5 linked regions of the Homo sapiens genome follow. The protein of the gene in region 3 interacts with the protein of the main gene of each other region in a pairwise test. Each region holds a gene or a part of one and is shown on either strand. Other genes may lie near its edges. The genes, in order: RBPJ, CLEC3B, RPS6KA6, CEBPZ and DNAJC13.

The links.
Region 1: the proteins of RPS6KA6 (region 3) and RBPJ interact in a two-hybrid assay, tested with the Homo sapiens proteins (one large-scale study listed by BioGRID and IntAct).
Region 2: the proteins of RPS6KA6 (region 3) and CLEC3B interact in a two-hybrid assay, tested with the Homo sapiens proteins (one large-scale study listed by BioGRID and IntAct).
Region 4: the proteins of RPS6KA6 (region 3) and CEBPZ interact in a two-hybrid assay, tested with the Homo sapiens proteins (one large-scale study listed by BioGRID and IntAct).
Region 5: the proteins of RPS6KA6 (region 3) and DNAJC13 interact in a two-hybrid assay, tested with the Homo sapiens proteins (one large-scale study listed by BioGRID and IntAct).

The regions. Positions count from the first base shown.
Region 1 is NC_000004.12:26,420,282-26,426,878, reverse strand, and holds part of RBPJ (recombining binding protein suppressor of hairless), read right to left. Parts: intron 6,329-6,597; coding exon 6,154-6,328; intron 2,538-6,153; coding exon 2,400-2,537; intron 2,249-2,399; coding exon 2,136-2,248; intron 1-2,135. UniProt on the Homo sapiens protein: Transcriptional regulator that plays a central role in Notch signaling, a signaling pathway involved in cell-cell communication that regulates a broad spectrum of cell-fate determinations.
Region 2 is NC_000003.12:45,029,053-45,035,293, forward strand, and holds part of CLEC3B (tetranectin), read left to right. Parts: intron 1-1,090; exon of another isoform or gene 1,091-1,185; intron 1,186-1,774; coding exon 1,775-1,873; intron 1,874-6,241. UniProt on the Homo sapiens protein: Tetranectin binds to plasminogen and to isolated kringle 4. May be involved in the packaging of molecules destined for exocytosis. Plays a role in retinal function.
Region 3 is NC_000023.11:84,103,044-84,109,640, reverse strand, and holds part of RPS6KA6 (ribosomal protein S6 kinase alpha-6), read left to right. Parts: intron 1-1,915; coding exon 1,916-2,018; intron 2,019-2,600; coding exon 2,601-2,731; intron 2,732-3,153; coding exon 3,154-3,276; intron 3,277-3,764; coding exon 3,765-3,854; intron 3,855-4,983; coding exon 4,984-5,142; intron 5,143-6,597. UniProt on the Homo sapiens protein: Constitutively active serine/threonine-protein kinase that exhibits growth-factor-independent kinase activity and that may participate in p53/TP53-dependent cell growth arrest signaling and play an inhibitory role during embryogenesis.
Region 4 is NC_000002.12:37,217,101-37,223,697, reverse strand, and holds part of CEBPZ (CCAAT/enhancer-binding protein zeta), read left to right. Parts: intron 1-296; coding exon 297-528; intron 529-1,134; coding exon 1,135-1,318; intron 1,319-3,224; coding exon 3,225-3,313; intron 3,314-6,597. UniProt on the Homo sapiens protein: Stimulates transcription from the HSP70 promoter.
Region 5 is NC_000003.12:132,453,859-132,460,455, reverse strand, and holds part of DNAJC13 (dnaJ homolog subfamily C member 13), read right to left. Parts: intron 6,391-6,597; coding exon 6,299-6,390; intron 4,222-6,298; coding exon 4,055-4,221; intron 3,956-4,054; coding exon 3,876-3,955; intron 3,794-3,875; coding exon 3,624-3,793; intron 3,188-3,623; coding exon 3,088-3,187; intron 207-3,087; coding exon 99-206; intron 1-98.

The sequences.
Region 1 (6,597 bases), on a different chromosome or scaffold from region 3:
CTTACAGATTCAGTTCCTGCCACTTGACCTCTCCTCCCTCCGCTCCAGCTCCACTGGTTTCTTTACTAGTCATCATACATCCCCTGCCTTCAGTTCTGTACTTGTTCTGTTTGCCTGAAATGCTCCTCACTCAATTACCGGTTCTTTGACTTCATTCTGGGCTCTCTTCAAATACTGCGACTTCAAAAAGACTTCCCTGACCTCTCTAAGCGCTCCTCCAATTCTCTATCCCTTTATTATCTTGTTTTGTTTTTTCATCACTACATAAATCCTTTACATGGGTATTTGGCTTATCACTCTATCAAAATGTAAACTCAATGACGAGAGGCACTCGACTTTGCATGTCAGAATTCCTGTCATGAAACCCCTGGAAAGATTTATGTATCAGCGTCTTAATAATGGTACTGCAACTTTTTCTAATAAGTTAATTTTTCATTGCAACATTTTTATATAAAGCCATACAGTTTTGAGTGTAAAAACCTCAATTAATGACTTTCAAGCAAGGCAGGCTACTGGTACTTTACAAACAACTGTAAATGAAAACATTGTTTTAAATTTGGGTCTGTCTTCTAAGTGGTTTGTATTATAAACTATTGGTGATCAGAATCATCCTCCTAAGTTGTGCTTCTGCAGTACAAGCATTTAACACCAAAGCAAATGAACATCATCCTTGGAACAGAGGAAATGAATGAGAAGAGAAAAAAAATGAATAAATGCTGATTCAGATTTTTTGCTTGCTTCTGTCTCCTGCTCTGTTTTTCATGCCCTTCATTCCCTAACGTTACCCTTTTTATTATAATTTGTCTCAGCTGCAAAGCTTTACAGATTACTATTACTATACTTCATGTCTTCTAGCTTATTGCATTGACATGGGAAATAAAATCACCTTGTACAATCATGACAGAGGGTAAAAAAAAAAAACAGTAACAAAGAAATGAATCACTGGCTTAGAAAACTGTAGATCAAACCAGCCTCTGCTGAAATGACCCCAGAAAATATAAGCCAGTGGAATATTGCACCAAAAAGATAAATAGGAGGCATGTTTAGGAACATTAATACTAAATGTTCTTCTACTCACCCAACCTCTTCAGTCTGACCTTGAATCAAACTTACTCATAAATCCCCTTCATCTTGAATATAAGTAAATTATATTGTTTGAGAAAAGGAGAGGGAAAATTGGGAGGGTGGTGGCACTATAGAGGACTTTTGTTTTCATTTTACTAACAAAAGTAGTTTTTACAATTTCAAGATCTCCTTTTCTGTGGTTGTTGAGATAGGATCTCATTCTGTTGCCCAGGCTAAAGTCCAGTGGTACGATCACCGCTCATTGCAGCCTTGACCTCCCGAGCTCAAGTGATCCTCCCACTTAAGCTTGAGACTACAGGTGTGCACCACCATGCCTGGCTAATTTTTTTTTTGGGGGGGCGGGGTCAGTGGTAAAGACGGTCTGACCATGTTGCCAGGACTAGTCTCGAACTCCTGAGCTCAAGTGATGCCAGGGCTAGTCACTTCTCCTTCTCCTGCCTTCACCTGTTGAAGTGCTGGGATTGCAGGTGTGAGTCACCATGCGTGGCCGAGTTTCAATGTCTTCTATTGAACAAAAGCCCTAAATCCTATGCCCTGCTCCCAGTTAGAAATACCAATTTTATTTCAGTTTTAATAAATCTATCTTCTTGTGAGAGAGTAAGCTAACAAAAATTACGCTTATATTTCAAAAGAAATAAGAATGTCTTCTGTTTGCAAACTTGGTCCTACATTGGGATATGGCAGGTACCACAAAAAAATGAATACGGTTTATCCGCATTAGTAAAGAAAAGAAATGTAATTTATAGTGCCCTCTACTGAACATCTTCAGATAAACAGCCAAAAAGGAAATTGCCACCAAAATATATTGGAAATCATTTAAGAAAAAATCATTAAGAATGTACTTGTAAAAACTGGCTATTACCTTAAAGCATTTCTGAAATAAGGTAGAGCATAACTGTCAATTATAAACAGCACTGATTACTAACATACCTTTTAAAATTAAAAAGCATAAAACTGAGGTGTGTTTTTCCATTTGAATGTTGTGATTTTCCTGTTTAAGAAATTAATTTTTACTTCACATTATCACTAAAGCAAAAGTAGAGCCATACCAATCTTGGGAGTGCCATGCCAGTAACTGAGCACACAAGTTTGACTGTTTGTCCATAATGGATGTAGCCATCTCGGACTGTGAATTCTTCTCCTTCTGATTCATCATCATCCACTGCAGTAGGTGGAAAAATAAATCAAATTGTCATCTTTTTAAATTTATTTTATGATTAGGCAAATGACAAAACTTAATATATCCATGTATCTCATCAAAAGATTTTAACAATTTCACACTAAAAACATTAAATGCACACTTTTATACTCACAGAGATGAATAAAAAAGGCTCCCCACTGCTGTGAACTGGCATGAAAATTACCTCCTTCTACATGCAAGTATCTGGTACTAACTGTCTGGGATCGTAGTCGATTAAACAGAGCCACCTTTGTTCCTGAGGCAATGCATACTGCAAAGAAAAAACAGCTCTTATTTATGTGATTGGAGCAGAAGGTGGGGAGGGAGCAAAAGAAGGAAATTCTGCTTGGCAGTGTATAATTATTCTTTCTTATCATTTAACAGTTTGACAAATATTTTCACTTTCCAAGACAGTACAGATGATATCAAAAAGTCAAGGTAACTGTTATTAATAATGTCAAGCTAATGATATCAAATGTCCATAAAAATAATTTTAAAGTGAAAGCTACACAGTATGTTTAATGTGGTGCTGATTATTAGAGAAAAACTTACTTTTAAAATAATGTTAGACAGTAGAAATTTAAATGATGACCTATTGAAAGGATGTGTATCTAAACACACTGATAAGAAAATATTTTCCTGGAATATCACTGAATGGAAAAGCAGACTATAAAATACTCTGTATGCTGTGGTTCCATTAGGCAAATGTATATATTTTTAATATGTGTTTGCATCCAATTCCACAGAATACATGCATAGAAAAGGGACCAGAAGGATGTTTGTCAGAGTTGATGGTAAATGCCTCTGCATACTGTGATTTCAGAAAATTCTGCTTTCTTCTAAATAAAGTATTGTATGAAATTTCTTGAAAATAAATCCATGTAAGCAGAAAAACATTCTGAAAGTGAAATATGTTCTCTGCCATCAAGAAACTAATATTCAGTACAAACACAAAGTTAAAGCAGTTACATAAAACTGTGTAATCTGAAATGCAAATAGCCTGAATACAAGACATAATATACCTCCTAGTGCAAGAGAGCACACCACCACCTTTGAAGCAGGTCTTGCTTTTCAGAAAGAAAACAAGAACCAAAGGACAACAAACTTAAATCTGATCACCATTCTACACTAAAGATTCTCTCCTTGACCATACTTTTAAGCAGGCTGCTCTGAGCAATCAACTAGTATTTGTCCTTGAGCCCCGTCATCAGTCTGTTTAGCTCAGTTATATATAGTAAGAATCCTCCTAAACTATCTCCCACTCTGGATCTATGATCACCTTGGCCTGCCTTTAGCAGGAATCCTAAGTCAGGTCAGAAAGAAACCTTCTACCTTTGATGTCTCCTTTTAGAAAGTTTCCATCCATTGACCCTCTCACTCTGCTTCATCCCCAAGTGTCTTTGTTGTATTCTGAAATGGAACTTGGTTCTATTTTCCCCTATTGCAATAGTACTGAATGAAATCTGTCTTTCCAACTAGGCCCACGCTCTATTTCTTTTTGACTCTACCAATTTACAGAAAATACATTAAACTATACCAAATAAATGAAATCAGCAAAATCTAGTACGTGGAAATCTCTAGTGACTAAATGTTTCAACTTACTTAAATAAATTGCAAGAGTTGAGGGGGTGTCCATAGATTATACTCAAGGACATATCACAATATAAACTGTACTAAGTGGTAGATCTGAATTTTGATTCAAGCAATCTGATTTTTAAAATATTTTAGACCATTTTAAATTTGAACACTGATTGGATATGCATCAAACTAAAATAAGGGCAGAAGAAAGTGGGGCTGGAGTACAGGTATAGATGAAGATAAGATTGGTTGAATGTTAAGATCACTGTTGACGTTAGAGAATGAACATAAGAGGTTTCACTGTATGGTGCAACTCTGTCTACTTGAGAGTGTTTGAAATTTTTCCGTAATAAAAACTAAGTGATATTAGTGGACTGAGTGGACTAAAATATAACCAATACAAAACAACAACAATAACAACAACCACAACAAAAACCATGATCTCATAATAAAACAAAATGAAAAGAAAGCAAACAAAACAAAAACCCTAAAACCCCACTGGTCACTTTCAAGGAATGTTATTATTCTGCAAATGAGTAAACAAGCACCTAATCCTGCCTTTTCATTACATATTACAATTGAAGCAAATAGCTGATATGGCAAAGTCCCTCTTTGTAGAAAAAACTCCAGCTAACGAATGCAGAAGTTAGAATTTAAAAAATTAGAATATCACCATTTTGCAGCATTTAATGAAATGGATTTAAACATCATCAATGACTATTAAAACCATTAGGTTAAAGTTTGCTGAGGAACTTTATGGGTGGAATAGACTTACAACAGCTGAACTACTATAATCAATCTCAACATGACCAAAAAAAAAAAAGGGGATAATCAGATATTATGACTTCCAATCCAATGGAAATAAATGTATATCTTACCAATCAGTTCTGAAAGTCTTTATGTCTAACCACCAGTTCATGGAAAGTAAGAGAGACAGAGAAACATATAATCAGCCAAACCCAGAATATGGAATTCCACAACAGGAAAAATGATCCAGTTTCTTCAACAAATAAATGACATAGAAGGAAAACAAAGGTGAGAGAGGGTGAGAAGAAACTATTACAGACTAAAATGTGTGGACCTTATCTGAATCCATGTTTGAACAAACCACTGTAAAACAAAACAAAGCAAAAAAACTATAAAAAGACATTCTGGGTCAATCTGATAAATCTGTACATGAAATAGGATATTAGATGACACTTAAGAGCTGCTGTCAACTGTTACGTATAATGATGTTTCAAAAAAAAGGGCATGTATTAGTCACTATTGCAGAAATTTTGGTTGAAAGGATAGGATGAGATTTACATTAAAATACTCCAGCAATTAGAAGACGAAGAGGTGTTGGTGGTGATGGAGATAATGAAACAGAATTGATAAAACCTGTTGAGGCTGGGTGGCTAATTTCTCCCTTTTATATAAATTTGAAAGTCTCAGCCAGGCATGGTGGCTCACGCCTGCAATCCCAACACTTTGGGAGGTCGAGGTGGGTGGATCACCTGAGGTCAGGAGTTCAAGACCAGCCTGGCCAAATGGCGAAACCTCATCTCTACTAAAAAATACAAAATCAGCCGGGCGTGATGGTGGGCACCTGTAATCCCAGCTACTCAGGAGGCTGAGGCAGGGAGGATTGGTTGAACCCGGGAGGTGGAGGTTGCAGTGAGCTGAGATCCTGCCACTGCACTCCAGCCTGGGCGACAGAGTAAGAGTCCATCTCAAAAAAAAAAAGAAAAGTCTCCATAATAAAAAGTTAAAAAAAGAAAAATGGGTGTGGAGGTTAAATTTATAATTCAAACATACTTGTTTGGTAGTCTAAAAATAGGCTGATGAGACAGCAGTCTCTGCCAGAGCAACCACATTAAAAATTGTGTTTAGATTCTCAGGAAGGCCTGCCAAAGCCCATTTAGTTGGTAGCGTTTTTCAAAGGGGTACTTGTTGACATTGTGGGTAGATCAATTCTTTGTGGAATGGGAACTACCTTGGACACTGCAGGACATTCAATTCAGCACCACAGGCTCAAGACACCCAAAGCCAACATCACCCCCTCCAGTCACTGTAACAACAGAAGGAGAAAATCTCCCATTTCCCCAGAATGTCCCTGGGAGCATTAAGGAACCAACTCTGGTTAAGAACTGCTTCATTAGACCACATACTGTCGATTTACGATTAAAAAAAGAGAGACAATAAAGAGGGCCACAAAAATATTAGTAAAGAATTAATTGGCTATTGAAAAGGCAATTTTTAATTTAAAAAAGAGTCTGTCTTATTAATTCATGGTGGCAGTTGGGGATAAATAAGAAAAGCATACATACAGTCAGCATTTTTCAATGACTGCTTCTTTTTGGAAGGTTTGGAGATGACTTTTATCCGCTTGCTGAGGAACACACCAATGTCATCACTGTTGCCATAGAACATCTTTACAGACAACATGAAGTGCTTTCGCTTGTCTGAGTCAGATATATACAATGTTTTGGCTGTGCAATAGTTCTGTGAAAGAAAAGTAAAGTTTTAACAGCAGCAAAACCTTGTTTGTTTATGTAGTACCTAAAACTCAGAATGGCCATGGTTTAAGTAATAAGTAAAACAATTCCAAGGGATAGCTGATAAAACCAACTCTAAAAATTATCAACTATAAAAATTACTGAAATTGATTTCGGAAAAGTACAAAGTCTTCCTTATAAAGTCTGTAGAACACAAACATTGTCATCTATTGTATCCTCTTTAAAAGACCATTTAAAAAAACAGCCTTTTCTTGT
Region 2 (6,241 bases), on a different chromosome or scaffold from region 3:
CACGCAGAAGGAACCTGAGGCTCAGAGAGTGGGCCAGCACAAAGGCCTCCTGACTCTGCCCAGGGCCGTAGAGACACCTACTCCCACAGCTTCCTCAGGTGGAGCTAATGAGAGTAGCTTCCTGTACCTTGGACAGTCCCTGGAGGAAACTTTGCACATATGGGCACCTTGGTGCAAATTACAAAAGGTACCTCCTCTAAACTGACAAATTATAGAAAGGCATCTCTTTTTCTGGTCTGACCCACTCTAGCCAGGGCAAGGCTTAGGAGACAAATGGGCCTTCATGTGTCCCTCAGCAGAATGCCCTTCTTCAGTGCCCCCTTGCACAGCCTCACATGGCACCCTATGCTGGTACATCACGTGACTGGGTACAGTGCTGCTATAACTGGTGGAGGCAGTCTCTGTGTGAGGCACACATGACCTCAGGCTGGTTTGCCAGCCCCAAACTCTCCCTTTTTTTGCCTTGCTCATCAGGGTGTTTTTGCTCCAGTTTGGTAAGTTACATCGCTAATTTCTATATACACAACCATGTGTCTTGCCTGTGATTCTTCTGCAAAGGCACCTTATGGGTGGACGAAGGCTCTGATCTCACTCTTTGTGAGTGTGGAATGTATGCAGACACAGCCAAATGGACCATTAAAGTGTTTCCCCACCCACTTCCCCAAGCTGAGTGCAGCCTTTCCTGAAGCCCTGGTGTTTCAGAAAGACCAGGGTCCGCCCCAGGAGCTCTAAACTTACACACACATAGAAATATGCTTCCCGGCACCCTCAACTTACACACACATAGAAATATGCTTCCCCGCCTTCCCCTGCTGACTCTTACATGACTGGCTGCCAGCAGGACAGCTCCTGTTAGGAATCCGTTTGTGTGCCATGGGGAAGGTGGGGAAGAGCATGGCTTCAGAGCCATGTGCACCTGGGTTCCAGGCCAGCCCTGCCAGCTGGGGCTCTGCCATCCTCGGCCAGTTGGTTTAGGGCAGCCTGGGTTTCCTCATGGTGAAATGCTGGTGGTACAGAATGACACGTTACCTGTGTCATAGGGTTGATTATGAGCATCACATGGGGTGACATGTAGAACGGCTTAGCCCAGAGCCTGGCCTCCTCTGTAAGAGTGGAAAACCTGGGTTCCTTCTGCCCTCATCTTATTAGTAGCTGTGATGGGCACACACTCAGCCAAGCACTGAGGTAGGCAGCTCTGCGTTTCAGTTCTCTTAGTCTTCTCCAGAGTCCTAGGAGGTGGGGCTGTCATCATCCACTTCATACATGAGGGAACCAAATCCAGAGAGGCTGAGCAGCTCGCCCAGGCCACCCGTGTCTGTGGCACCTCCAAGCCCTGCATATGCGTGCCCCAGGCTGGAGTGCCTGCTGGTCTGTGTCGCATTCCTCCAGCCTGGGGAAGTGAACCTGGGGGCTTCTTGAGGGCTCCTGCTGTGCTTCCTGTGCTGTTCTTCCCTGGAGCTGAAAAGGTAGCTGGGTGGTGGGGGATCACTGAAGCCTGTGCCTACACCCTCACCCCTGCCTCTGCTAATCCCAGCCCCATCTGATCCCCAGCAACAATCCCAAACAAATGCAGCACAGGAGCAAGTGAAGGATGGGCCCCCTGGCAGAAGTCACAAGTGGTTAATTAGACTACCACCAGCAAGGATAGAGAGAGAGAAAGTTTCCCAAGATATCAAGGTTGAGGGGAGTCTTTTCCTCTCATCCCTCTGCAGCTAAGGTAGGATCCTTCCTGCTCAGTCCCTGCCCCACCCTGACATATTTCCTCCTGCTTCAGATGTTGTGAACACAAAGATGTTTGAGGAGCTCAAGAGCCGTCTGGACACCCTGGCCCAGGAGGTGGCCCTGCTGAAGGAGCAGCAGGCCCTGCAGACGGGTGAGTGCAGGCAGTAGCCTCTCTGGGCAGGAGCGTCTGAGAGAAGGGCCCAGGCCAGCAGCCAGCAATGCTCTTCTCGCCTCCGTTCAGCATCAGGGTCCTGGCTCCATTAGTCCAGGCCTATGGGTGAAGGCACCAGGTTCAGGGAGCCCCACCTCTTTCTCTTGGGGAGATCCCCTGACACGTGTCTGCAAAACTCACCTGGATGTGTACGGCCAAATCTCTGGCCACAGCTGGGTGGTGTGGAAGTGGGGATGTCCCAAGAGGACAAAAAATTCTCCAACAAGAATCCACTACTGCCCACCAGAAGTGACCCTGGAGCGCTCGATGGGGCAGAGGTAGTGGCCCACCCTAGCAAAGCTCCCAGGAGCCCCTCACTCAGCTGGCCTCTGCAGCCCCAGAGAGCTCCACACTCCTGTGTGTCAGCAGCTTTGCTGACCCTGTCTCTCTTAATCGTAACTCTGCTGAGGTGGGATTTGTCAGCTCCATTTTAAAGATGAGCTGTCAGCTCCATGAAATGTCAGCTCCATTTTAAAGATGTGTCAGCAGCAACTGAGGCATAGACAGGTCCTGAACCTGGCTCATACTCACCTCGTTGGTTAGTTGACTCGTGGAAGAGCAAGAGTTGAATGGAGGCAGGCTGCCCAGTGCCAAGCTGGGCCTTGGTGTTCCTGGCTCTGCACTAGCCAGCTGAGGGAGGGTGCACAGAATCACCAAGAACAGGGCCCAGGCGCATGGTAAGGTCATGCCCTCTGGCCAGCATACCTGGCAGCCTATTGTTTCTCACTCCCCATGTTCCTGTCATATAGTCTGCATTTTCCACATACCTCCGATTTACCTACCTTTATATGACCTCACCTTCCATTCTATGGAGAACACAGACTCACAATACTGATGACTATTTACATGTGAGCCCACTACATTCTGGCACTGTTCTTGATGCTTGATGCAGACTCACAATACTGATGACTATTTACATGTGAGCCCACTACATTCTGGCACTGTTCTTGATGCTTGATGCACGTTAACTCATTCACAGCACACCCGTGCAGTGGTCCTGTTACTACATCCTCACCCTTATTTTCCACCGAGAAGGACCTTGTGACAGCCGAAAGGAGCAGAGCCTCACTTAGCTCTGCTATGCTGCCCCTCGAGTTATCAGCTGGGAAATCACCTTGACTCCTCAGCAAATCTATAAACCACCCTGTGTCCACAGCCACTCTCTTACCTGTTGCTTTTGTGACCAAGGCCCATCCATCTGCAAGGCCTTCCCTTCCCCGCCTGCCTCCTCAGAAACCCCCAACAGCCTTCTCACCGGATGGTTTTACACACTCCCTCCCATTCATATGCTTTCCTTCAGCATTCACACTGCCATCCTTCTGCACTCCCACCACAGGGCCTTTGCATGTGCTGTTTGGGCAACCTGAATTGCTCCCCCAAGATCCACCTAATAAATGCCTCCAGCATTATCTTCTCAGGAGTCACTAATCCCTCATCTCAATCAGCTCCTCAGTTATAAGCTCTCCCAGAACAGTGTCCTTTCTTTTATCACACTGACTGCAGTCTGTAATGATACACTCATTTCCTGATTTGTGTCTGCTGCCTCCACTAGACTATAGTAAGCCCTGAGAACACAAGGGCCATGTTTGCTTTTCATTGCCCTTGTCTCTTCCACTACCCTGCCCAGCATAGTGCCTGCCACATAGCAACACTCAGTCAATCTCTGTTGAAGGAAGGACAAACATGTAACTTTGGACAGCTTGCTTGGCATGGCAGGTAGGAAGAGAGTGCTCGAGAAAGGGAGCATCTCCAGAGGTGTTTTTGACTTCATGTAATAGGAAACCTATCAGTGGCTTAAACAAAAAGTAAGTCTGCAAGTAGGTAGTTATAAGTTTTTGTTCAGAAGTTTCACCTCATGGTCTTCAGATGGCTGCCCCAACTCCAGGCATCATGAGTGCATTCAAGGCAAGAAGGAGGAAGAGTAGCCCAACCACATCTGTCTCATTTATAGGGAACGTAGTCTTCCACTTCCATCTCATTGACAAGAAATCTATCATATGGCCACCTGCAGCTTTAAGAACATCTGAGAATGCAAGAATGTAGCTTTTCCAGCCTCTATAGTGGAGGTGGACAAGAGAGAAGGGATTTGGAGGCAACAGTGCCTGGCACAGCGGGTATGTTTAGAATGAGCCCAGTGCCACTCTGAGCCTCAGTTTCCTCATCTGTAAGGTAGGCAGGGTAAACTCTAAGGTCTCTCTCATGTCTAAGCTCTGTGCTGTGCAAAGTCAATGTAACCCAGGCATCAACTGCCACCTGGGGTGAGGTAATGAGGTGGGGACCTCCCTGAAAAAAGTTCATGACATATGGAGGCCCAAAGCATGACATATGAAAGCCCCCATGTCTGCTGATTTCTAGGAAGCTGCTGGGCTTCTTGGGGCCTTCTCCTGTTCATTGTCCTCACAACCCAAAGATCACCTTTTCAATAAACCCACCCAAAGCATTGCAGAGCTCTGTTGACCTAACCAGAGTTGAAGGAATCAGGGGGCAACCTTTCCCTCCTCCAACCAGCATACACATGGGAGGTTCCCACCTGGTACATCTCTGCCAGGCACAAGGAGGCAGAGGTGATGCAGCCAGGGCCCTGCTCCCTGGGAACCTCAATATATTCATGGAATCACTTGAGCCCTTGAAAGCTGTGTAGGAATCAGAGAAGATAAAGAGGGTTGATTCCAAGCAGATGGCAGGGCAGGAGCAGAGGTGTGGAGGACTAGCATAAATCGACAGGATCATGAATAGACCAGAGCAACAAAATGTTGGCAGCAATGATAGTATCACGAGAAGTAGCATTGACTGAGGACTACCTATGTGTTGGAGGGAGGTTCAGGTGAGGGTCCTAGGAAGCAACTCTGAGATGGAGTTTAACCCACAGGAGACTTATCAGGAGATACCCTCAGGATCAACCCCTGTGCTAGGGAAGGGATGGAAGGAAGCAGGAGTGGGCAGAAGGAGAAGTCGAGCTGTACTGTGGTGCCACGAAAGCCTCAGCTGACTTCAGGAGCCCTGATGACGGGATGACCCTTCGGCACTGTCCTGAGTCGGGGCAAGAGGGCTTATGGGTCAGTCTTGGGTGTAGGCTGCTCTAGGGAGGGGCACGGCCTTGGAAGAGATGGCTGTCTTCTGCTGAGGCAGTCCCTGCAGGAGGCTGAAAGCTGAGGACTTTCTTCCTGCAGCATTCCTGGCAGCCAGGGCAGTGAATCCTTCATCCCCAACAAAAGTCTAGGTAGCACGTCAGTGTTACCAGCAGGAAGGAAAGGCAATGAAGGCCGCTTGGCTAAGCTGTAGGATAGCACGAGGTAGGACAGCTGACTTGGGGCAGAGTCTGTGGGTAGACACCTCTGTAATGCTTCAGGCCCCATGTTTAAAGTCGGTTGTGGTGTCAGATGCCCATGGGGACACTGGGATGCTGTCCATTGATATTTGTTGAGTGAAATGGAAGTAACTGAGTGGGAATGGATAGAGGGGAGTGCAGACATCCCCCAAAGTGGTGGGGTCACCAGCAAGAGGACAAATGCAGACATACACCTGTCTGTCAAGATATTCCTTTCCACAGAAATCTTTAGTAAAAGGTGAACGATTTATACGATCTCAGGAGAAATCAGAGTATGTCTAGATATTTCAGCTAGAAATCAAGCTGAAAATGCAAACTGCAAAACAAAAATAGATTTTATCCTCCTAACTTGACCAAATATGTGCCTTCATCACAACCTTTGGGGCCAGGCTCAAACTGAGAATTTGTGGACACCTCAGAGTCCCTTGCCTGATCGCCGGCCTCTGACCACAGCCTGTGCCCAGCACTTCCTGTCTTCTCTCTTGCAGTCTCAGCTCTATCCACTCAGCCCCACCCTACCAGCCCTCAGGAGAACTGACCCTGCAAAAGGCACTTGGCAGGCCCTGGAAGCTTGCTTGGGCTGTTTGGGTAGGGATTTGGGGCCCTGGGTACATGAAGTGTGGCCTAGGCTGTAGGTGGGCAGGTGCCCTGGCCCTGCAAGCTGCTTGATCTTAGGGAGGGGCATGGAGGAAGGAGAACCAGAGCAGGTGGCTGTGGCTGGGCTCCCTGGGAAGCTGACTCTGAGACAGAGCTAATTTGTTAGGGTGAGCCCTAGGAGCCACACATGTGGGGGCGGGGGGAAGAGGAAGTGGGCAGAGGGAGAGCTGAGCTGCAGTGCAGGCACCAGGCCAGCCTCTGTGACCCAAGGAGATGGGGTGGGTAAAGGCCAGAAATGACTGAGGTGGAGGCCTGGGAAGGGGTGTCAGCTGGGGCTGGGTGCTTCTGTAGCACAAGGGCTGCCTTTTCTCCCAGCCGCGGGA
Region 3 (6,597 bases):
TCTCAGAAGGGCCTACAAAACACTTAGGCAGTTGCAGAATGCTCAGGCAGTTGGTGCATCAATGCATATTGCAGACCTGTGGGGCTGGGCTCTCGGGAGCGCCCACAGAATGCTCAGAATATAGCAAAACACTCAGGTGATTGGGTCCCTATGGCTGATCACAGGCCTGTGGGAGCTGGTCTCTTAAAAGGGCCCACAGGATTCTCAGATTATCACAGAACGCTCTGGTGGTGGGATTCCCATGGCTGATCACATGCTTTGGGGTCTGGGCTCTCAGAATGGCCTGCAGAATGCTTATGTGGTCGAAGTCCCAAGGCCCATCACAGGCCTATGGGGGGCTAGGCTCTCAGAAGGCCTCCAGGTAACAGGTGAAATAGTTGGGAGCAGGGCCGCTGGGCTGCTGGCCTTTCACTGGGGAAGGCAGACCCCTTCAGCTGAAGCAATGAAGGTTGGCAGCTATGGGGTGCTTGGCCCACCTGCACTTCCCTCCTGAAGGAGCAGCAGTGGATTTCACTTTGGTGGGCACACAAAGGTGCCCAGTTTCCCCACTGTCTCCTTGGCCCAGGAGTGGCAAGTGTGATGGTGGTGTTGGGCGCAGCTATTGAGGGAGCTGAAGAGCGGGTCACGAGCCTCTGGGGGCTGGGCTCTAAGAAGAACACCAGGCTGTGGCCAGTATATACATGTAAGGGCAGGGCAGCTGTGCTGTAGACCCAACACTGAAGAAGGGAGGCCTCATTTAGAAGGGAACAGCTGAGACCGGCAGTCTTTGCAGCGTGCATTCTGCTCACTCCTCTGTACTGCAGCTGCAGTATCTGTCTTTGAGGTGTGCACAAGTACCAGCCTCCCTGCTCCCTGCCTAGTGAGGTGGCAGCAGCCGGCGCCAGGCTGCTCAGGGATCAAAAGTCCATGGGATTCCACATGGGCTTGAGCAGTACCTCTGCACAGATTCCAGGCAGCTCCGTGTATTAAACTGGAGGCCTAGGGGATTCAAGGGGGTTTACCTATGGTTAGCATTGAAAGTCTGTGGCAGAATTGTGGAATCCTGGGGGTCTCTCACTCAATCTTCCCTTCCCTGCATCGAAGATCTCCTGGCTCCACACCAGTCTCAGTTCACCTGACGGCATGGCTTTGTTCTCTTCTTTCTGTGATTCCCAATTCCATCACTTCTCTGATGAATTCTAGTGTGGCCTCTTAGAAAATCTACTTGAAGTGTCAATATTTATTGCTATTTTGATTCCTCACCATGAGAGAGGCATCCACTAGCCCACTAGCTGTTTCTAGTAAGCCATAATGAACTAAAAGTCATGTTTACATATTTAAATACATAAAAATTACTCAAAAGTAATTCCCTATTTATTTTTCCCCACTGTGGGACTGTAAGCTTTTTAAAAAATAGATTTCAAAAGAAGTGGCTTTTATATATTATTAGAAATTTTCTATGCCTTTCAAAAGCATAGATTTTAGCAAGATAGATTGTTAGACGACTAAATTTTCAATTATCTGATACAAGCCTAAACAGTACATTTAACGTATATTTTTTATGTGAAAACAATATTTTAGATGAAATATGCACTTTTTAAAAATAATTATTGATTTTGAAAGCCTTGAGCATTTTAGTTATTACTGTGCTGTATTTGCATGGTTATATTATCAATGAGCATTCAAAAACTTCTGATATCCAAAATTGAGCATTCCTTGTGAATTCAGCTTGTGGCATCATTGCTATGTTTCTTGGCCTCATTACATCTTGAACATTATCTCTCAAAATTTTAGAATTTGGTTAACAGTTATCTGAAACTATGAAATTGTTAGTCTTCTATTATGGACTGTGAATATTATGTTCTGCTTTGTTTTACAAAGTATAATAATTTTTAAAGTCTTAATACGTTTTGTGTTATCTGGTTGTCCCTTCTAGAAATTATATAAAAGAGAAGTTCAACCTCCTTTCAAACCTGCTTCTGGAAAACCAGATGATACTTTTTGTTTTGATCCTGAATTTACTGCAAAAACACCTAAAGGTAATGCATGTTTATCTGTAAAATCAGAGATTTTATTTAAGTAGATAGTTTAAAAATAAACTTTCTTGTGAAGTAAAAACTAAAAGAATGGTAAATTTGCAGAGAGTTGATTTGTCCATGGGAAATATGGATCCTATACAAAACATTGCTTGGGCAGCTGTCAAGTAGATGTTTTAAATGGGAAATATTTATCAGGAAGGAAGGAACTTGGTCAAAGGGTGGCAAGTTTATTTCTTTGTTTTATAAGTCCTTTGGCATGCTAATGATTTACAGGATGGGGTAGGAGGTAAGACGTGAGATATATTACTCTGTCTTTTACAGTTTCATACATACACTCAAGAAATATTGAATACCTACTATGTACTAAGCAATGAGGATGCAGTGGTGAAAAGAACAGACAAAAAATACTGACTAAAATGGAGCATGTATACAGATGGGAGGAGACAGATAATATATAATAAATCAAATATATAATATGTTAGTAGCATTTAATGGTTTCCTTTATAGTTAAAGAAATTCTGACACTTTATATCATAGAATTCTGTGTGTAGTTATAATTAAATGTAATTATTTGGACATTAGATTCTCCCGGTTTGCCAGCCAGTGCAAATGCTCATCAGCTCTTCAAAGGATTCAGCTTTGTTGCAACTTCTATTGCAGAAGAATATAAAATCACTCCTATCACAAGTGCAAATGTATTACCAATTGTTCAGGTAAATTCCACTTAATCACATTATTCAGTTTTGGGATAATTATTTCTCTGTTATTGCTGATGTATTTTTAATCGTTTTTTTTAAAGTGATTTTTAACTTCTTTGTTTATCTATTGGTATAAATCATGAATTAAATATGTCCCTGTGTGTTTTGGAAAAGAGCAGACAGTGGTAACTTTTAATTATATTTATGTGGCCTCTTTTGAATAAAATAGAAGGGTGATGTATAAGCTAGTTGCTTTATTATGTTGCCTGTGGGTATCAAGAAAGGATTGGTTCACGCCATTTATAAATGTCGATAAAACTTCTGTAGAATGAATTATTCTAGTTTAAGGCTTAAGATGAATGTATATTTAGGACAAAAGACAGAAAATGTGAAAATATTTCATTCTCCTTAGTATTTTACTTTTTAAAAATAAACAGATAAATGGAAATGCTGCACAATTTGGTGAAGTATATGAATTGAAGGAGGATATTGGTGTTGGCTCCTACTCTGTTTGCAAGCGATGCATACATGCAACTACCAACATGGAATTTGCAGTGAAGGTATTGTCTCTGAGCCTAGCTTTCTTGTTTGTTTTATGCATGTAATTTAAATTATGAGTCAACTGACAAACATTTTCAGTGGAGTAAATGAAGATAGGAAAGATAAGATGATGAGAAAGAACTCTGAGACTTAATATTTTCATTTTTGAATTTCTTTTCAAGCCTTTGTTATGTAGGAACAGTGTATTTCATGAATTTTTGCATTTGAATAATTTTGTTATACATGTATTATGTTAAGATTGAGCAGTTGTGATAATTACAATCACGTCATCATTGGTACAATTTCAGTGAAATAGGATATAATGTTAAAATTTTATTTTTTTCTGTTAAGTTTTTTACTTATGTTTTTAAATGTTAAAATAATATGAGGTAAGTATTGTTCTTGAGTTTTTAAGCATTTCTTCAAAAATATAACCAAATGGAAAATACTCATTTTAGACAAAATAATTTGTTTGCCTCAGATATTTTTCTTTTTTCGTATTTCTTAGATCATTGACAAAAGTAAGCGAGACCCTTCAGAAGAGATTGAAATATTGATGCGCTATGGACAACATCCCAACATTATTACTTTGAAGGATGTAGGTATTTCTAAATCTAGGTATCAGCTAAGCTAATGAAGTTATGAATTGGAACTTTATTTTTCTTATTGAAACTTTTAATGTCTTTAGCATATTTATTTTCATGCCTCAAAAATCTCAGGACTCTTAAATTGCCACTTTAATTCTTTTTTTTCCCATGATTCTATACTTCTAGTCTTATAGAATATCAAAAATAACTATGATGATTGGTAAATGAGAATTTCCTCATTACATGAATATATTCTGGCTGGTTAACTAGTTAACATTGTAGCTAACACCAATTATTATTCTGTAGTGCTATCAATACAGAAGATACAGGAGACTGGGGATCTGCCAAATTCTTGAATATTTTACTTTCTTGATTGTATAGTAATTGGCTATAGCATTATGGATTGTTTCTGGAGTGAAATAGTCTTAGTCTATAGTTTTGTAAAATGAATGTATAACTCATTAATATGTTACTGAATGCTCACTTTTCACATAAGGAGATAATGTTCTTTTCTCTTTATACAAGACAGAAAAGTCAACTATCACCTTGATCAATTTGTGTCAGAAAATGATATGCACTTTGATTTGTAATCTTTAAACTACTGTGGTGTGTGTGTGTGTGTGTTTATCATACATGCCCTGAGTGAAAAGTGTATAAATACTTTTCTTATTTGTTTTCCTTGGTATACTATTGGAATTCAACCAGTATTTAAGATACCAAATCAGATAATGAACTGAGGGAAGGGTATAAAAAATAAATAATGTATTTACTTTCAGAAAGAAGCTTACGTTTGGGGAAGAGAAGTAGCTATAATACAGTAAAAAAATTGAGATAGAGGTCATTTGAGAGGCACAGAGTTCTATTTTTTAATTTCTTTCTTTGATGAACTGCAACCTATAACTTCAAAAGGCAATAAAATTATATGTTTAACATGGTTTCATGGGACTGTGTAGGTGACTGTTTAGCCAATTCAACCTTTAGTACAGCCTGTACTGCATTAAGAGTAAAGGAATAATGTCTTTTTTGTTTCTAATACTAGAGGGAAGTCTAGTAGAAAGGTAAATATAATTAAAATCTAATTTAAGAATTATAGAATTGTAATTATAAATAATAACATTTTAAAACTGCGTTCTTTTGTAGGTCTTTGATGATGGTAGATATGTTTACCTTGTTACGGATTTAATGAAAGGAGGAGAGTTACTTGACCGTATTCTCAAACAAAAATGTTTCTCGGAACGGGAGGCTAGTGATATACTATATGTAATAAGTAAGACAGTTGACTATCTTCATTGTCAAGGAGTAAGTTGTAGTTAACTTTTTTCTTTCTATTCTGGGACCTATATCTTCATGAAAATATAGGAGATGATGCCACCTAAAATAAGTTGCTTTTATTCACATATATTTCTATAGAGAATATCCTAATAGAACTCACAATGTAGTGAAGTTTATGGATTTAGGAAATAATTATTTTCTCTCTGCCAATTGGCCCTGATTTAATAGCATATTCATTTAAAAAGCGGTTTGAATTATATAAATGTACCTAACTTTGACCTTGAAATTATGAAACTTAGACTTAAAAGTCAAACATAAAAGAATTAACCAAAGACATACAGTGACTATTATTCAAGTTACCTAACATATAAAGTTCAGATTACCTAACATGTATCTTGAACCTTGCCAGCTCCTTCCCTAAATACAGTAAGAAATGTGTATTCTAAACATTTCAAGTATTACTATATTAAATTTTGTGGTGAAGGGGCAGGCTTGTTATTTTGCTTCCTGTCCTTTCATAAAGAAGGCAAATGAACTGAGTTACAAAAAAAGGGAACTTTTAATATATATAACTGTATAAAAAAACAAAGTAGGGAGTAATTTAAAAATTTAAGTTTGAATCAGTTGTAATAGTAGATATGTACCAACTTAATAAAGAAATTTAAAATGGCAATTTAGAATTGACATAATGAAAACTCTGCATGAGCCCCTCTTATAATTAGTAAAAATAGTACTCAATTTTGTGTGTGGTTTAATAAAGTGTGTTTTCAGTATTTTTTAATATATAATGCTAAACAGTAGCTTTTTATAATTTAATTATTTGATTGTCTTTACCAACCCTCTCTAAAATAAAGCATGAAGAGAATTTTTGAGAAAAGCATCATAGGCGTCTCTTCTTTATTATTGTATGAACCTTCAGGTTCTTACTTCAATTAACTAAATTAATAAGACACATATTGAGCATTTCTACAGGCCAGGCATTGTAAAAAGTGTTGTGGATTCAAACATGAGTGAGACCTGGTCCTTGTCCTTAAAGAGCTTTAGCATAGTAAACTCTGATTAAAGATAAGGATAACTTACATGAAATAGAGAGTACTAGTAGGGAACTTATCACATGGGGGAATTTCAGCATTTTTTTTTACCAGTCCTACATTTTATTTGTTTCTTCTTTATTGTTTCTATTTTTCTGCTGAGACTTCCCTTTTTTTGCTGAGAGTTTAATGCATTGAAAGCATGTTTTGTTTTACTTTGTTGAGGATCATTATGATAGTCACTTTAAAATCCTTATCTGTTTTAGCATGGTTCATCTTGGAATCAGAATTTATTGATTTTCTTAAGACTGTGTTCTATTTTCTTGGTTCTTTGTATAACAGATAATTTGGGATTGTATCCTAAGCATTATAATAATCAGTTATAGAGAATTTCATATTTCATTATTTTTCTCCAATAGTTATTATTGTTTCATTTGTTTAAGTGGGTAAT
Region 4 (6,597 bases), on a different chromosome or scaffold from region 3:
TTAGGGCTGTGCCCTGTTGATATAGAAAACAGAAAAACACTTGGAAAAGACAAGAAAACCACACACTCAAAAATGCCTATTCCTGTGTCTGTTGCTGTTGGTTTTTCCTGGTGCCATCATCATCCTTTTCTGGTCATTGACTTCCATCTTACCTCTTAGGGCAGGGTCTCTTGTTCTAAAATAAGCAGCAAAGTTATCCCTAACTAAGATGAGGTTAGTAGCTATTTCTAATATGTGACCATTGGTTGTGGAGATGGTTTTATACATAAATATTTGACCTTGGTTTTGTTTTGCAGGAAGATGTTGGATCCAGGGTTGATGACGTGTTCCAAGCAAGCTATGTTTCTTAACCTTGTCTACAAATCTCTGAAAGCTGACATTGTGTTGCGCCGGGTGAAGGCTTTTGTGAAGAGGTTACTTCAAGTTACTTGTCAACAGATGCCACCATTTATATGTGGAGCTTTATATCTTGTGTCTGAGATCCTTAAAGCAAAACCAGGTTTAAGAAGCCAACTAGATGATCATCCGGTATATTTTACAACTGCTTTTTAAATTGAGTGGGTGCTGAAATATATTGGTTTTTGTTTTGTTTTTCTTTGCTTCAAATGACAGTAACCTAGTTCTCTGGAGCATATGAGTGTGAGTTCTGGAATAGGACAAACCTAGATTTTAGTACCAGCTGTACAGTTTACTAGGTGGGCATGTTGCTCAACTCTTCTACTTGCAATAAACTGTACTATACTAGAAGCTACCATTATATGAGATTTGGAAGACTATAAAACTTAGTAGACCTCTTAAGTCTTCTTCCTTAACAATGAAATGGAAATAATAGTACCTACCTCATAGGGTTATTTACAAGTCAGAAATTTACTTGAGGGCTAATTGTTTTCAAGTATTAGAGTCCTTAAGGCTCAGGGGTTCTTAGCTCAAAACTTAACTGTGTTATGTTTAGAAATAAGGATGTAATCTCCTCTCTTGTTTAAATACCATTGATAGCCATCATTTTACTTTATTAGAACTTTCACGTTTCACCAGAGTTGCAATAAGTAAAACTCTGCATCACATAATGGAGCACAGACTTTATTGCAACTTCCAGTTGATTTATGTAGATTTATGAAACTATACTTTTGTTAGGAGTCTGATGATGAAGAAAATTTTATTGATGCAAATGATGATGAAGACATGGAAAAATTCACTGATGCAGACAAAGAAACAGAGATAGTGAAAAAACTTGAGACAGAGGAAACAGTTCCTGAAACTGATGTAGAAACCAAAAAACCAGAGGTTGCTTCCTGGGTGCACTTTGATAATTTGAAAGGTGAGTTTTTTTCATCTTTATTCTCTAGGGAGTTTGTTTCTCTTTGATTTTCATAGAAAATAGCATTCTACCATTTTATTTACTTATTTATTTATTTAGACAGAGTCTCACTCTGTTGCCCAGGCTGGAATGCAGAGGCGTGATCTCGGCTCACTGCAACCTCCGCCTCCCAGGTTCAAGTGATTCTCCTGCCTCAACCTCCCAAGTAGCTGGGATTACAGGCATGTGCCACCACACCTGGCTAATTTTTGTATTTTTAGTAGAGGTGGAGTTTCACCATGTTCGCCAGGCTGGTCTCAAACTCCTGACCTCAGGTGATCTGCCTGCCTCAGCCTCCCAAAGTGCTGGGATTACAGGCGTGAGCCACTGTACCTGGCCCACAGTTTCTTAAAGTAATGTTTTAGGGATAGAAAACTTTCTGTTCAAGATAGAAACGTTAAGTGGTTTTCTATACACACACCAAACTAAATTAAAAGTCTATTAATAGAATGTTAGAGTCAAAAAAAAATCTTAGAAATGCAGCCCCTTCATTTGAGGCTGTGAAGAAAACACCAGCCTTGAGGTTCGAGAAATGTGGTGCCAGACCCATTTCTTCAGCTTGCTTTGGGACTCACAGTCAAATTAATTCATCTACAAATTTCAGTTTGTGAAGTACAAAAGAGAAGTCTGATAGCTGCCAGAAAAGTTTGAGAAGAATCCATCAGTTCCCCTGAAGACTAAACTGAGAATAATCCTTTAGAAGGATGAAGAGCTTGTGTGTTGGAAGGTAGTCAGTTCCTAGTTTGTTCTGAAAAATCTTTGTTTTAAATTTTTTTAATCCTGAGTTTCTAAAAACATGAAGATAATGTCAGACCTGTTCCAAGTGAGAATTATTTCTGGGCATACTTTCATGACAAATATTTGAAGCACTCTAAAGCTCCAAAAGACTTTAGACCTAGTTCATCTTCAGATTATTTCCATCTTAACGTTTCCACCTCTTTGGCCCCAAAATGGGCACCTTTTGTTGCCATTTAGGAAAGGGAGAAGTTTGGGGTTTTTTGGTTTGGTTTTTGTTTTTTTTGAGACAGGGTCTCACTATGTCACCCAGGCCAGGCTGGAGTACAGTGGGCCATTATGGCTCACTGCAGCCTCAAACTCCTGAACTCAAGCGATCCTCCCACCTCAGCCTCCCAGGTAGCCGGGACTACAGGCTCGTGCCACCAGGTATGGCTAGTTGTGTTTTTTGTAGAGACGAAATCCCACTCTGTGCACCGGCTGGTCTCGAGCTCTTGGTCTCAAGCAGCCTTTCCACCTTGGCCTCCCAAAGTGCTGGGATTATAGGCATGAGCCATTGTGCCCAGCCAAAGGAGAAGTTTTGAAGGGAGCTTTTACTTACTTATTTTTGAGTCAGGGTCTTGCTCTGTCAGGAAGGCTGGATCACAATGGCACGATCTTGGTTCACTGCAACTCCCATCTCCTGGGCTCAAGTGATCCTCCCACCTCAGTCTCCCGAATAGCTGGGACTACAGGCACACACCACCACACCTGGCTAGTTTTTTTGTTGTATTTTTTGTAAGAGATGGGGTTTCACCATTTTGCCCAGGCTGGTCTCGAACTCCTGAACTCAAATGATCCACTCGCCTCAGCCTCCCTAAGTGCTGTGATTACAGGTGTGAGCCACTGCACCTGGCCTTGAAGAAAGCTTTTGGTGTTTGGGATAAACATGTTCTCTGCTTTATTCAAGAGCAGATGCTAGCTTAAGTACCAAGACAAATTCTTGAGGGAGCTCAGAGTTTTTAATCTAGGTTGCTTGGCTAAGTAAGAATGTTGGAGATATCTGTTGAGAATATTAATGGTGGTGCTTTTAATGACCTCTTGGGCTAGGAAGAAAGCATTTGAGAAATCGTATTTTTTTTGTTATTCCTAGGTGGGAAACAGTTAAATAAATACGATCCATTCAGTAGAAACCCTCTGTTCTGTGGAGCTGAAAATACAAGTCTTTGGGAACTCAAAAAGGTAAAATAATTTCAAATTGTCTTTTATTCATTTATGCTATATATATATATATATATTTTTTTTTTTTTTGAGACAGAGTCTTCCTCTGTCACCAGGCTGGAGTGCAGTGGCATGATTGTGGCTCACTGTAACGTCCGCCTTCCGGGTTCAAGCCATTCTCCTGGCTCAGCCTCCCAAGTAGCTGGGATTACAGGCGCCCACCACCACGCCCAGCTAATTTTTGTATTTTTAGTAGAGACGGGGTTTCACCATGTTGGCCAGGATGGTCTTGATCTCCTGACCTTGTGATCCGCCTGCCTCAGCCTCCCAAAGTGCTGGGATTACAGGCATGAGCCACTGCGCCCGGCCTATGCTGTATATTTTTGCCCTTGAGGATGTAATGCCTTGAAGTTTTTGTTTTTTTATGATAATTATAAGCATTAATAAACATTAAAAGTCCACATTTGGGGGAAGATACTATGTGAAGTGTTCATTTTGTAGAAAATCTTAAGTGTGCACGTAAAATAAGGATGTCATGCATGGGTTATGACTGTTGCTTTTTGTAGGTAGATTATTGCATATAGAGTTGAGAAAATGGATAAATTTTGCTTTATTTATTAGATACCTCTGAAAAGTTTTATGATAAAATTTTTTGCAAGTAAAGTTACTTTTCTGAATTTGTAAGAGGAATTCATATTTTTAATAACCTTTCTGTGACTTTTTGTGTAAAGCCAGTAAGTATCTTATGCAGCTATTCTCAAAGTGCGGCCAGACCACTAAGAGTTCCTGATACCTTTTTAGTGAGTCGGCCAGGTCACAGCTCTTTCCATAGTAATACCAGTACATTATTTGTTTTCATCACTGTGTTGACGGTGGCACTGATACTATAAAAGAAATGATAGGTAAAACTGCTGCAGCTTATCCTGAATAAAGACAGCACCAAGCTGCATCAGAAGCCATTATATTCATCACTGCCACATATGTGCAGTTAAAAAAAAAAAAGCCAGTATGACTTAAGAATGATGACACAGGGAGAATTACTGATTTTAGTGTCTTGACCTTAAAGTAACATGTCTTTTTAGTATTTCGTGTGCATACATAGCAAGTATGCGTAACATACCTGTGCTGCCTACCTAAAGCATGAAGGTTGTCACGTGTCTCAAGGACAAGTGCTTACCAGTTGTTGCAAGCTCATCTAGCTGCTCTTTCATGAAAGACTGACAAACTGGTTATTCAGGCTTAGGTATTTGGGAGATATTTTCTTGAAAATGAATGAAACAAAAAAGCTGGCAGTATTTGTTGTCAGCAATAAAATTCAAAAATAAAGCTTTCGAGCAAAGATTAAAGTTTTAAAAATCTTGTAACCACCACCTTGAGCTTGACAGTTTCTCAATTTGTAAAACTTTTCTGATGAAATCAGTGGTTCTAACAATGTGATTGTTGTGGTAAAGTATAACGAAATGTGCCAGTGTTTGGAAGGACTGCATATGGTATTTTTCCAATGACCAATGCACAATGTTACAAATTCTTTTTTTTGAAACGAGAAGGTTCTGTCACCCATACTGGAATGCAGTGGCGCGATCTCGGCTCACTGCAACCTCTACCTCCTGAGTAGCTGGGATTACAGGAGCATGCCACCATGCCCAGCTAATTTTTTTATTTTTAGCACAGACAGTGTTTTGCCATGTTGTCCAGGCTGGTCTCGAACTCCTGACTTCAGGTGATCCACCTACCTCAGCCTCCCAAAGTGCTGGGATTACAGGCATGAGCCACTGTGCCACCTGAATGTTACAAATTCTTGAGTGAATAAATGATTGATTCAAAGTAGACCAAATAATTTTAAGTAGCAAGTACCAAAAGCCAATTGAATATGGGTTTCAGATTCCATATTACAACTAATCTTTGGTTTTGGTATAGTACTAAAGAAGAAAATTCACAGCTATGTGAAAGACTATTTTCTACACATGAGGCCAGATTGTATGTTTCAACGTGGAATACAGAAGCAGATGAAATAATCCACTCTCTTCTGTTAAGCCAGACATTAAAGAGATTTGCAAAACTGTAAAGTAATACTACTCGCTATATATTTCGTCCTGAAGCATAATTATTTTTCTTTTTTTCTTTTTTCTTTTTTTTTTTGAGGCAGAGTCTTGCTCTGTCGCCCAGGCTGGAGTGCGGTGGTGCGATCTCAGCTCACTGCAAGCTCCGCCTCCCGGGTTCACACCATCCTCCTGCCTCAGCCTCCCGAGTAGCTGAGACTACAGGCGCACACCGCCACGCCTGGCTAATTTTTTGTATTTTTAGTAGAGACGGGGTTTCACCGTGTTAGCCAGGATGGTCTCGATCTCCTGACCTCGTGATCCGCCCGCCTCGGCCTCCCAAAATGCTGGGATTACAGGCATGAGCCACCTCGCCTGGCTGCATAATTATTTTTCATAAATATGCTACTTACTAGTATGTAGTAGCTTTATGGTTTTTGTTTTTGTTTTTTGTTTTTTTTTTTTGAGACAGAGTCTTGCTCTGTTGCCTAGGCCAGAGTGCAGTGGCGCGATCTCGGCTCACTCCAAGTTCCGCCTCCCAGGTTCACACCATTCTCCTGCCTCAGCCTCCCGAGTAGCTGGGACTACAGGCACCCGCCACCACGCCCGGCTAATTTTTTGTATTTTTAGTAGAGATGGGGTTTCACCATGTTAGCCAGGATGGTCTCGATCTCCTGACCTCGTGATCCGCCCACCTCAGCCTCCCAAGGTGCTGGGATTACAGGCATGAGCCACCGCGCCTGGCCGCTTTATTGTTATTTTTAATGGACCTATAAGTATTTACAATTTTTCTGTTTATTTTTATAACATAGGTGTCTGTAGATATAAACCTGTTGAATAGAAACTGATGGAATTTTTGGTTTTTAAGTGTAGGAAATGGTCCTGAGACCAATATGTTTTGAGAATCACTTTTTTAATGTATTGGCTTAAATTTCAAATTTTTGCATTTTCATTTTTGTTGTTGTTGAAATAGGGTCTCACTCTGTCACCCAGGCTGGAGTGCAGTGGTGCCATGTCAGCTCACTGCAGCCTCGACCTCCTGGGCCCAGGCAGTCCTCCCACTTTAGCCTCCTGAGTAGCTGGGAGTACAGGCACGCGCGCACCATCACACCCTGACTATTTTTGTACTTTTTGTAGACATGGGGTTTCGCCATATTGCCCAGGCCAGTCTCAACTTCTGGGCTCAAGCAATCTGCCTGCCTGAGCCTCCCAAAGTGCTGGAATTACAGGTGTGAGCCACCACACCCAGCCCGATTTTCTTAAATA
Region 5 (6,597 bases), on a different chromosome or scaffold from region 3:
ACAATAAAAAAAAAAAAAATCATCCACGTGGCACTTCTAGAATATCTTTCAATAATGGTATGGTATCTACCATGAAGACAAATTTAATTATAACTTACCACATGGGAATTAAATTTCTCCAGTAAGTTTTCCAGAAACTTCTTTGACGAGAGAAGAGAAGCTTTGTTCAACTGTTCTTGTCTTAAGTCATAGTCATCATGCATGGGCTATTGATGAAAAAAAAAAAACAGTGATAATTCATAAGCAGTCCCATGTGCTAGCATCACGCAAAAGTCATTTATAAACAGTATTCATTACACATTGAAAGAATTAAAAACCATTGCCTTTAAAGTGTAAGGCAAAAAGGAAACTCGTGATAAGCAGGCAGAAGTGACGATTTACCATGATTTTGATCAGACTTCACAGATAATTTGCCCAACAATTAACTCAACATATACAAAAGGTACTCTCTCAAAAGTCACAGATCTTATTAAAAGGCAAACATTTGCCCACCCAGAATTTTATAACTAAAATTTGAAATAAAACTTAGCATTTAAATGTACTAAAATTAACAACAAATACTTGTCTCAGGGTGATTTTCTTTTGAGTGTATAAAACATTCCAGCGTGATGGTTAGGAGTAGAGCTCCAATCCTAATTTTACTACTGACAATAACTGGGAGACGTTACGCAAGGTAAGTTACTTTACATAAGTCTCTAAGTTTCATTTTCCTCAGCTGTAAAGTAGGAGTAATAGTATTTATGTAACATTACTATGATGCTTAGATGAGATAATTCATGTAAGATACAAAGCCAACACCTAATATGTAATGAGGGCTCAATGTTTGTTTCATAGCATTGTTTCTTACTTTTTTTTATTGTGGTAAACTACATATAACAAAAGTTACCATCTTAACCATTTTAAATTACACTGTTCAGTGGCATTAAGCATTCACATTGTTGGGCAACCATCACCACCACCCATCGCTAGAACTTTTTTCATTTTCCCAAACTGAAACTCTGTAATCATTAAACAATAATTCCCCATTCTGCCTTCCTCCCAAGCCCCTGGCAACCACCATTCTACTTTCTGTGAATTTGACCTCATATAATTAAAATCATACAATATTTATCCTTTTGTGACTGACTTCTTTCACTAGCATCATGTTCTCAAGGTTCATCCATGTTGCAAAACGTGTCAGAATTTCCTTCCTTTTTGTTTCTGCTCATTTAGCAAATACTGTATGTTACTATGGTTAATTGTATAAACTTTGGAGCCAGAAAGTGGGCTTGAAGCCTCCTCTGCCATTTACTAGCTACATGACCTTGAACAAGTTACTTGGGCCTTAAGTCCTTCTCTACAAAATAGATATAACAGTAATAACTTCTAAAGTTCATTGGAAGACTGAATAATATATGAAAAATTCATAGAATAGTACCTGAAACACAGAAAAAAATTAATCATTATTTATTAAACAGCTTGACAAGGCCTGTTAAGGATAAAAATTAAAATTAAACATGAATATTATCCTCAGGAAGCTGACAGATTGAGAAAAATACATCATGTTTAGAAATAGCAATAATTCAAAGAAGAAATTGCTAAGAAAGACAAGTGTAATATTTATGAAGGGTAATCTCACTTCAGGGAGGGATACATCACTACCACCTTCAGGAATAAGAAAGCTCCATTTATTTTTAAAATTTTATTTTAATTGTTGTGGGTACATAGTAGGTGTGTATATTTGGTAAGCTTCATTTAAAAGCTGACTTGAGCTCTTAATGAATAAGCAGGGAAAGAATTCTGAGCAGGGAGAATACATGAAATATTAAAAAATATATACATTGGTCTCCATCCTTGGCTCCTGACATAGAGCACCTAAAACCCTTGCAGACAGGGGCACTAGCAGAATCTTTTGTTGCAACAGTCTTTTACCCTGGTTCCTGACACAGAGCTCCTAAGAACTTTGCAATTTCCTGATAGGGGAGCCTGACACAAAGCTCTCTACCATTAGAATTTCCTGGGTAATAGGAACATCTTTTGTTCGAATAAAGCAACTCTCCATATCATTGTTAAGTTCTAGTTATCTCACTACTTGTTTGGAACAGTAAATAAAATTAATTTGCTTTTGGGAATGCAAGGTTTTACAGAAGTATTTACTTATGTTTATGTACGACTAAGCTTGCCTAAAACACTTTATATAAGGAAAAGTCCCAGGTACTACACACAAAACTGAGATAATCAGAAACTTCAAAACTGTACTAAACAATTGTTTCTCCCTCTGTACAAGCTGCCACTAAGTTAGATCTTTACTGCGCAAACAGCTTTCAGGTGTGCTGCTTCTTTAGCCCTGTGACTACCCTAGCTCAGCAACTCATTTCTTACGTGACAATTTGGTCTACCTGCCTCTAATTTTACTTCTATTCTCCACATACTACCAGTGTGGGTTTTTAAAAACTCAAACCTGATCACATTACTGCTCTCTTGCTAAAAAAAATCCTTCAGGTGTTCCTTACAAAAAGATAAAAATCTAGCTCCTCCCTCCTGATACAGAAGGTTTTTTATTACTGTCTGCATACATCTCTAGCTGCAACTCCTAATTACCCCCCATCCATACCTTATAACCCAACCATATTTAATTATTTGTTGCTTTCCAAACATGCCTTTTTATATGCTATTCCCCACCCAGGAAGGCCTTTCCAGAGCTAGAAAATTCCTGCCTGTCCTTCAAGATTCAGATCAAATGTAACATCTTCCAGAAAGACTGGGTGAGAATCTTTCATCTTCCCCTCATCACCAAACAAAAATAAAGTGCTGCTTTTCAAGATCCTATGGCCCCTACTACCTTACCTTGTACAGATATGCCTACCTTACCAGACTGTCAACAAAGTGAGGAAGAAAAGAACTTCTGTCTTAAGATCTTTGAATTTCTGGCACACAGCACATTGCCTGGTATTTAGGATATGCTAAACAAAGGTTTGAGTAACTATGAGAACAATTTATGAAACAGAAACAAGAACTTATTGGTACAATGAAAATCTGGGACTGTGGAAATCAAAACCACCAGTCAACTTAAGAAAAACCAGTTTCCTTAAGAAAACTACTACTTACACACATAAGGGCACAAAGCATATCAACTGCTGCATGGATTATTCCGTTGTTGCTTCTTTTGAGTGCTTTTACTACCTTCACCCCTAGACGCTCGCGAAACCTTTTGGAACAAAAAACAAGCATATACTAGCAATACCAGAACATTTTAAATTGTTATATTATTGAAATAGATCATATTAACTTTCCATTGCACTACTGGAACAATGACGTATTTTAAATTCCACCTCTGAAATTTATCAGTCTTCATAATAGTTTTTTCTTTGAGAGGGAAAATATTTTTTAGGGTTAACTAAAACTAAAAGGCATGTAATTTCCCATTCAAATTCAAGAGTCAGTTATATTACTGGTGAGTATGGGACCAATATTCCGCTTCTGCTGCCCTCACCTTCCTTTTTCATTTCTCATGAATAAAGTACCATATCACCCTATAAAAGGTATCTGGTTTAGTCAAGGAAAAGGAGGTGAATCGTTCATTATTTGCCATTTTGAGTAGTTCAAATTCTCTAAGAGAAGTTAAGTTTCAGAAGACAACTTACTTTGGAAGCTGAGTGAAAGCCAGGAAACCAGCTTTGGATGCCACAAGCCTCCTCACAGCCTGGAACTGACTCTCAAGTTCCGCATTTGAAGCAACGACATCCCCTTCTTGGGACAGTAATGCTGTTATGGCATTATTGATCAGTTTTTCTTTGTTTTCTGAGAAGAGACCCTAGGTGAAGAAAGAGTATTTCAAAAAAGTTTCCATACCAAAAGTTAGTAACAATGAACAATTATGATAAAACTTAGCTTACATCTTGTGTTACTGCATGTAGGACTCCACTGTATGAAATATTAGCATTGAACCTGAATACAGCATCTGCAAAGTTGCCATCTGTAAAGAGATTAAGAGGTTCAAAAAGAAGATACGAATTCCTAATTCTTAAATTAAGTAGATGAGTGGAAATGTAATTACATTTAAATCAATACTTACTTGGAGGCGTAGCTAAGAACCTGAGGTGAAGGCTCTCTACTTCCTCATCAACAGGCATGCTGAGTAACCCCCATCGCTGACCTTTATGGGTTGGTGTCATTTTTACACAAACATCTCTATTACCAGAGGCTCTTACTCCATCCAGCAAACTTGCTAATAAGGAATCTCTAAGTAAGATTAAAAGTAAAAAAAGGTTTTAGCATTGATGATTAAGGGGAATTTTGATCTAGCATGAAGCATAGGCCCTTTAGCAGGTAATCTGCTCAGGGACACACTACAGTTACAATGGGAAACACAAACAGTGGGGCTTTAGGAAGAGCTCTAATACTAGCTCTTCACCGTGCTGCTACATGACCTTGTACAAGTTACTTAAACACTAATTTTAATTTCTCTTTCTCTCCCTTTAAAATTATTTTTAACAGCTTTACTCGGTTCTAATTGACAAATCACAAGTCATCCAATTAAAACGTACAGTTTGATAATTTTTAATAAATTTATACAACTGTATAATCATCATCAGTTCTGATATATTTTCATCACTCCAAAAAATTTCCTTGTGCCCATTTGCAAAAGAACACTCCCCAGCCCCAGGAAACCACTGATCTATCTCTATAGTTTTGCTTTTTAAAGAAACTTCATAAAAACAGAATTATAGAATATGTAGTCTTAGGTGTCTTGCTTATTTTACTTATCATACATAGGCTTTTGAGATTCATCCAAGTTGTTGCATGTATTAGGTCAGTCCTTTTTTATTGCTGAGTAGTATTCCATTGTATGAACAGGCAACATTTTGTCTGTTTATTCACTGGCTGATCTAGATATGGATTGCTTCTGTTTTTGGCTATGAGTAATGATATTACGAACATTCATGTGCAAGTCTCTCTGTGGGCATCTTTTCATCTCTCTTGGATAGATACCTAAAAGTGGAACTGCTAGACCATATAAGTATGTGTTTAATCTTTTAAGAAATTATCAAACTGTTTTTCAAACTGGTTTTATCATTTTACCTTCTTACCAGCAATGTATGAGAGTTCTTTTCTCCATATCCTCGCCAACACCTGCCACTGGCAGTCTTTTTGATGTTAGTCATGTTAGTGAATATGTAGTAGTTTGCATTTTCATTTCCTAAAGATTCATGATCTTTTCATGTATTAACATTCATATTTTTCCAGTGAGGTGTCTATTTCAATCTTTTGCCCATTTACTATTGGGTCGCTTGGTTTTTTTCAGTATTGAGTTGTAAGAGTTCTGTATATATTCTGGATAGAAAACCTTTATTAGCTATATGCTTTGCAAAGATTTTCTCCCTGCGATCTGTCTTTTCTTTTTCTAAATGGTGTCAAAGTTCTAAATTTTAATGAAGTCTAACTAACAACCTTTTTTTCTTCTTTTCTAGATTGTTTTTGGTATTACATCTGGGAAATCTTTTCTTAACCCCAAGTCACAAAGAAGTTGCTTTACTTTCTGCATGTAAGTGTTATTGGGAATAAGAGGACCTTCTTCCTACGGCTACTGTCAGGACAAAGCAAGATAACGTACATAAAGCATCTCACAAACAGAGTGTTAAGATCCTTCCTCTGATTAGAACATCCATACTTTTTTTTTTTAAGGTGTTCTTTTCCATTGAATTCAGGACAGGAAAAAAACATAACCATTGCTTAACATTTCAGTCTTGTTGACCTTAGACTGAAAGCTTTGTAAGGCAAGAAACAGCTATTGGTCATACTATACTACTGGAAATACTATAAAAACACTAGTTATAGGCCAGGTGTGGTGGCTCATGCCTATAATCCCAGCACTTTGGGAGGTCAAGGCAGGCGGATCACTTGAGGTCAGGAGTTCGAGACCAGCCTGGCCAAGACGGCGAAACCCCATCTCTACTAAAAATACAAAAAAAGAAAAAAAGAAAAAAATTAGCTGGGCGTGGTGGCGCACACCTGTAATCCCAGCTACTTGTGAGGCTGCGGCAGGAGAATTGCTTGAACCCGGGAGATGGAGGTTGCAGTGAGCCAAGATCACGCCATAGCACTCCAGCCTGAGTGACACAGTGAGACTCTGTCTCAAAAAAAAAAAAAAAAAAAAAAAAATTGAAAATGGGAGGGTCATTTTAAATATGCAAGAAAATGTCTTTTCCCAAATTAAATGATTTTAAATTTCTAGACTACATATCTTTGGTTTTCCTTGTTGACCAAGCACTTTGCCTTGCACAACTAGGATTTCAAAAACTTAAAAAAAAAAAAATACCTCTCTGTTGAAGAATATTTCCGTACTTGCCCTTTTATAAATTCAATGGTAAAAAGTTGTGGATTTTCTGAGTCACAGACCAACGCAAATACCTAATGAAAAAACAAAAAATAGCTTCAACAAAAAAAAGTTTATAGTTTTATAGTATTTCATTATAAAATGCATCACTTAGCTTACAAAAGTCAGTATTTTAAGATGTGACTTGTTTACAATATAAGAGTTTAAAACTTTAAAATCTCAAATTTTCAGTTGAGTAATAAGTTCCATTCTTTATATACTTGGAAAATAACTTTTGTAAT